Linked DNA regions of Homo sapiens: region 1 is linked to region 2. The links come from fine-mapping of genetic effects on gene expression. Tissue or cell type: lung. Region 2 holds a variant in brackets; the other region holds the start of a gene. All regions are shown on one strand. Distances are between the middles of the regions.

What was found. PIP is the estimated chance that this variant, and not a neighbour inherited with it, causes the effect. A credible set is the group of variants that fine-mapping cannot tell apart.
Region 1: NGRN starts here. The variant in region 2 is the best candidate, but not a certain one, in a credible set for the expression of NGRN in lung (TOPMed, PIP 0.61).

The regions. Positions count from the first base shown.
Region 1 is chr15:90,263,991-90,266,635 of GRCh38, reverse strand. NGRN (neugrin, neurite outgrowth associated) reads right to left here and starts at 964. Exons shown (of 3, transcript NM_001033088.3): 1 at 760-964; 2 at 238-348. The coding sequence starts at 923. It overlaps TTLL13 (tubulin tyrosine ligase like 13), which reads right to left. Exons shown (of 15, transcript NM_001396017.1): 14 at 2,578-2,645; 15 at 1,159-1,916. The coding sequence ends at 1,669. It also overlaps a transcript of CIB1 not described here. RefSeq lists enhancers at 10-980, 774-1,003, 1,364-1,493, 981-1,952.
Region 2 is chr15:90,209,240-90,212,080 of GRCh38, reverse strand. The region is part of intron 1 of SEMA4B (semaphorin 4B); the gene reads right to left. Among named protein-coding and RNA genes, the nearest start is that of SEMA4B, 9.3 kb to the right of the region's middle. RefSeq lists enhancers at 1-826, 2,362-2,411. The variant T/C (reference allele first, on the strand shown) is at 1,270.

The DNA of each region.
Region 1 (2,645 bases), 55 kb before region 2:
TCGAGGCGATAGCGAAACCCCGTCTCTTTAAAAAACAAAACAAAACACTATTAAATCTAGATAATGACAGGGTTAGGGAAGTTCGTTATATTACTCTACTTTTCTGATAATAAATTTCAACGACAAAAAGTAAACGAAAATATAAAAGCAGTATCAAAAAAGCCAAACCCGTTTCTGGGCTCCAGCATCCTTCACTTCTCATCACAGCGGATACAAACAAGGTATCCTGAGTCTCACCGTATCTGCTCCATGGCTTCCCACGTCAGGGTCCTGGGCGGGGCACCAGGCGCCTCCATTTGCCTCCGAATTTTCTGGAATCGGATTGCTTGTTTCTGTCGTTTCAGGGTGCTGGGGGAAGAGAACCAATGGCAGAAGCCATGCGTGGAAGCAGAATGGATGTTTGAAGAGCCTCAGGCTAAATCATGGAGCGCCCAGCCCTCTTCTCTTTGATCGCAAGGGCAACCGGGCCATGTTGCCGGCTTAGAGCTGCTCCGTACACCCAGAAAGCTAACACCTAGAACAATAACTGCCTGTAAGCATGCCGAACTCTCTAAACTGATGATGAAATACGTCACTAATGAAGGGACCAGTGGTCCCAGGGGAGCTGAACACCTGACGCTGCGCCCCTAACAACGGGTAAGAAGAAACAAGGGCCGCTGCGCAAGCAGCGGCAGGACACCCGGCGCCAAGGGGGCGCGGCCTGGAGCGCCGGGGCACGAGGCCCTGCTTCAAGCTGAGGGCCCGGGGAGAAGCCGGTACCTCTCCACCTCCTGCAGCTCCCGTTCCTCCGGCTCCCAGTCGGAATCGGGGTCCGGCTCCCGGCCAATAGGGCCTGGGCCCGCCACCCCCCGGGTCGCGAACCCACAGCGAGTGACGGCGGCGCAAACGCGCCCGCCCAGCAAGAGACTCAGGGTAACCGCCATGTCGACGCAAACCAGCCTTCAGCAGTCGGCTACGAAACAGCAGCGGAAGTAGCCGGGTAAGACCGGAAGTGGAAGGGGCGGGCCGGAGGCTGGGTAGTAGCAAGTTATTTCCCGCTTCACTTGGTGGGGGTAAGATCTGGGCTCACGCTGCTCAGTGGCCCACCCTTTCTGCCTGTAACTGTGGAGAGGGCTTCCCTGAAACGTGAGGGCCGAAATGAGGTACAGGACGCTCCTGGAAAACTGCATAAACTTTAATTAAAGTACGGATTCCGTTTCCAAGAGCCGTCCCTCCGCCCCAGCGGCTGCCCAGGCCTGCCTGTCTCCGCCACCTCGGTGGGCAGGGCTTCCGCTCGGCAGTCTTCTGACGGCGACAGCCCAGTGCCTTGGGCACTCGGCTTCTCTGGGAAAGGGGCTCATTGTCTCCTGGATGGCCTCCAGCCCCGGGCCGCACCTAGGGTTCAGACCCATCACCTAGCGATAAACCCAGGCTAAGGCTTGATGAGCAGAAATGAGTACATGGCTGGCCTTGGCGCCTCTTCATCTTCTAGTCTTTACCGATCCCCAATTAATCTTAGGGTATTGAGGAATTCTTGGTGTCTTTGTATTTTGCCTTATACAAATGGGGTTCCTGGGCAGGGCTTTTCAAAGTGGAACTTGGTGGCAGTCATTCATTTAGCAAAGATTTAATGCCCTTTGGAAACCTGGGGAGGTTATCCAGGAGAGGTAGAGTGCTTCCCTCCTGCTTTTACCTGAACTGATTGATGTTGAGGAGTGCTCTGGAACGCTGCAGCATGGGTGCAGACGCAGGGCAGAGGGGAACCTTGGCTGCTCTGTGTTCAGAGTTTACCATGGAGGGCAAGGTGCATTCAGTCCATGAGTCAGATGCCACTCTTTCCGGTTGCAGAAAATAGCCCTGCTTTGGGGTTAAAGTGGGTGGCACTGATCCTGCCAGGACTCGGTTTATGGCTTCTAGCCTTCTGCTGGCTTGTCCTTCTGCAGTGGAAACATGGATGTCCCTGAGTTGGTATTCACAGAAGAGATTTGTTCACCTCTTTCCCAACTGTGGCCCAATTACCAACACAGAGGAAGGGCATCTCATGCTTCCCTCCACTGTCTTTCCCACACTGTATTGTAATTGGTATGGTATGTCTTTTTGTCCATGTTCCTATTACCTCTTGAGTGCTGGGACTGTATTTCTGCCATTTCTATCACCAGGGTCTAGTGTACAGAAAGGATTAAATAGGCCTGGTGCGGTGGCTTACACCTGTAATCCTAGCACTTTGGGAGACTGATTCAGGTGGATCAGGAGTTCAAGACCAGCCTGGGCTACGTGGCAAAAACAAAATATACAAAAGTTAGCCGAGCATGGTGGTGTGTGCCTATAGTCCCAGCTACTCAGGAGGCTGAGTCAGGAGAATTACTTGAGCCCGTGAGTGGAGTTTGCAGTGAAGTGAGATCAAGCCATTGTACTTCAGCCTTGGCGACAGAGCGTGACCTTGTCTCAAAAAAAAAGGAGTAAATAAATGGGTACCCTAACTTCCCCATTCTTACACTGGTGGAAGTGCCATATTATATTTTAGGGGCATCCAAGCTCTATGCTTGCTAGTGGGATTTACATATGTCAAAATGACCAAAGCTAGTTTTGCATACTTACGGCTAGTGAGCCTGATTCTGGCACTGGAAAAATAGCACCTCCCAGCCTTCTTCATTGACAATGAACAG
Region 2 (2,841 bases):
CTGTGACTCAGCCGGAAGCCTGGAGCTCTCTGGGGTGAGACAGGAATAGGGCTCAGCACCATCCCCACCCTGGTTAGTCCCCACCCCAGGCCAGCCAGCTAGCTGCAGCAGCGCTGTGACTCAGAACCCCACCCCACCTTTCTCTCTACTGTGGCTCCGGGCACGGCAGCAAGACGCTGACCTGGCCCTAACATCCCACCCTCTACAGGCCCCAGCAGGATCAGGCCAGAAAACACCAGCTTCCCTGTGGAGTCGGTGGGGAAGGGGCCTCCAATGCAAGGAGGCAGCCAGTGGCCTCCCCCACTCTCAGAGAGGGGTCTGGGCGGGACAAGTCCCCAGAGAGCCTCCTGAAAGGCTGTTGTAGCCCTTCGTCCCCAGGGATGTCACGATAAGTCACCAGAACCTTGGACCCACTTACCCCAGCAGCAGCCCCACCTCCAGGGCAGGAGTGCTGACGGGGCCACAGTCAGCAGGAAACTGGGACACACTGCCAACCTGGGTGCACTTCCTTCCTCCACACGGCCCGTGTTGGGCAGGGCAGCCACTTCTTCCTCATGGAGCATGGAGGAGGGGGCCACATTCTGCTGACACCAGCCCAGTGCCAGAGTCGAGTCCCTGACCAGGGACTCTGGGCAGAGGTTGGGGGTATTGTGTGCCAAGGGTCCTCCCATGGACTGAGGTCACCAAGAAAGTGGCAACGAGGGCAAGGGAACCTGGCCTCACAGCATCTGTGCTCCTGGGGCATGCCCCGGAAAGCCATTGCTACAGCCCCAAGTGGGCAGACGAAGAGCCTCTGCCAGAACCCCCAGGCAGTCCCAGTCCCGACCTAGGGCCTGTGCCATGGGTGCACAGACCACTGCCGTCACCTTAGGAGCCTGCCTGCCGCCTGCCTGCTCACAGGTCTACACAGGGACACGCTCAGTCCCTCTGCTCAGGGGCTGGCTCCCCTCTAACAACCCGGCTTCTAGGGCCTCTGCCCTGGGTCTGCCTTCCTGCTTTTATAGATGTCTCCACTTCTTCCAAGGAAATCGGGGTCATCAGGCATAAACAACCTCAACTTCCCACCCCATCTCCTCAGAGACCAAATCCTATGTCACCAACTCTACCTGTCAGAAAGCAGTTTTTGTTCCAATGTCCATTCTAGAAACTTTTGTGCCTCCCTCCACCTGCCTTAGACAAGCTCCCAAAGAGAACAGCCACCCCATGCCATCTCTGCCTCTCACCTTCCACTCACTCCTCCACAGAAGTTGGGCCTCAGCCAGCCCCACG[T/C]TCAGCAGTGCCAGCCCTGCCAAGAGCCCAGGGATCGCCTCGCTGACAGACCCCAGACACGGGCCACGCCACCCCGTCCTCTAGGTACCTGTGCCCCCAGTCTCAAGCATCACTCCGTGTCTCCCTCACATGCCTTCTGGGCCTCTAGCCCTCAAAGAGCTAAAGTATGTGAGCACTTTCTCAGCCCTTTAAACGGATTAAGTCATGTCATCCTCACAAGGCTGCTGTGTTTTATTACCTCTGTTTCAGGTGCAAGTCATCCCCGGGAGGAGTGGTGGGGATGCCGCCCGACCCTGGGCCACCTGGCTGCAGCATCTGTGTTGATGACCACCCTCCTGCCTCAGGCTTTGCTCCTGAATGTTCTTGCTCTCTAGGTCTGTCTGCTCCTGGCCCTGCTCTTCTTAACTCCGTTCAAGCCCCTGGGTCACACGTCCATGCTCATCACTTCAATGACGCGGATGCTGGCGATCCCCAAATCTCCTCATCCAAGTGCAGATCTTCCTCCAACACACCAGACCCCACAGTGCAGAAGGGCCTCTGTGGGTGCCTCCCACCACCTCACCGCCCCCTTCCAGTCCCACTCCCTGGCTTGGCATTTTGTGTTTGTGTGTGGCACCACTCACCTGGGTGTCTCACCATCCTCCTTCCTCAGAAGTCCAGTCTATAATCAAATCCTGCCAATTTTCTCTCAATATTTTCCAAATCCATTCCCCTCACCATCCCCACTACCGCAGTCCTGAGCCTGGCACCATCCTCTCTCACCTAGGCCACCATCACAGCAGCCTCCCAACCAGCCTCCCATCTCCAGGCCAGCTGCTATGCTGCAGCCAGAGGGCTCTCTGGGAGCCGTCACTGTTCTGCCTAAAAACTTCAATAGCACCCCGTCGTCCAAGCTCCTAACTTGCTAGTGCTTGCCACCCACCCACCTCTTGGTTCGACCAAGTGACATGGAACTGCAACTCAAGGGCCCAATTCTCTCATCTCCGGTCTGTTCAGGAAGTCCCCTCCACCCAGAAGGCTTTCCTTTTGACTAACTCACACTCATCCTTTGAGACTTGGCTCAGTTCCACCTCCTCCAGGAGGCCTTCCTGGATCCCCGGCTGGGCAAGGGCCCTTCTCCGTATGCCCATCATTTCCTGTTCACACGTCTTGTAGTGCACTGGTGACACTGTCGGATGATGGCAATGTTTGATGTTTGATGATGATGAGGAGGGTCTTTCTGCGCTCTTCTCTCTTTTTTTTTTAAGACAGTCTTGCTCTGTCGCCCAGGCTAGAGTGCAATGGCATGATCTTGGCTCACTGCAACCTTGAACCTTGGGTTCAAGCGATTCTTCCGCCTCAGCCTCAGCCTCCTGAGTAGCCGGAATTACAGGCACCCGCCATCATGCCCGGCTAATTTTTGTATATATATATATATTTTTTTAGTAGAGATGGGGTTTCACCATGTTGGCCAGGCTGGTCTTGAACTCCTGACCTCAGCTGATCCGCCTGCCTCGGCCTCCCAAAGTGTTGGGATTACAGGTGTGAGCCACCGCGCCCGGTCTTTGTGCTCTTCTTTTCCACCAAGCTGAC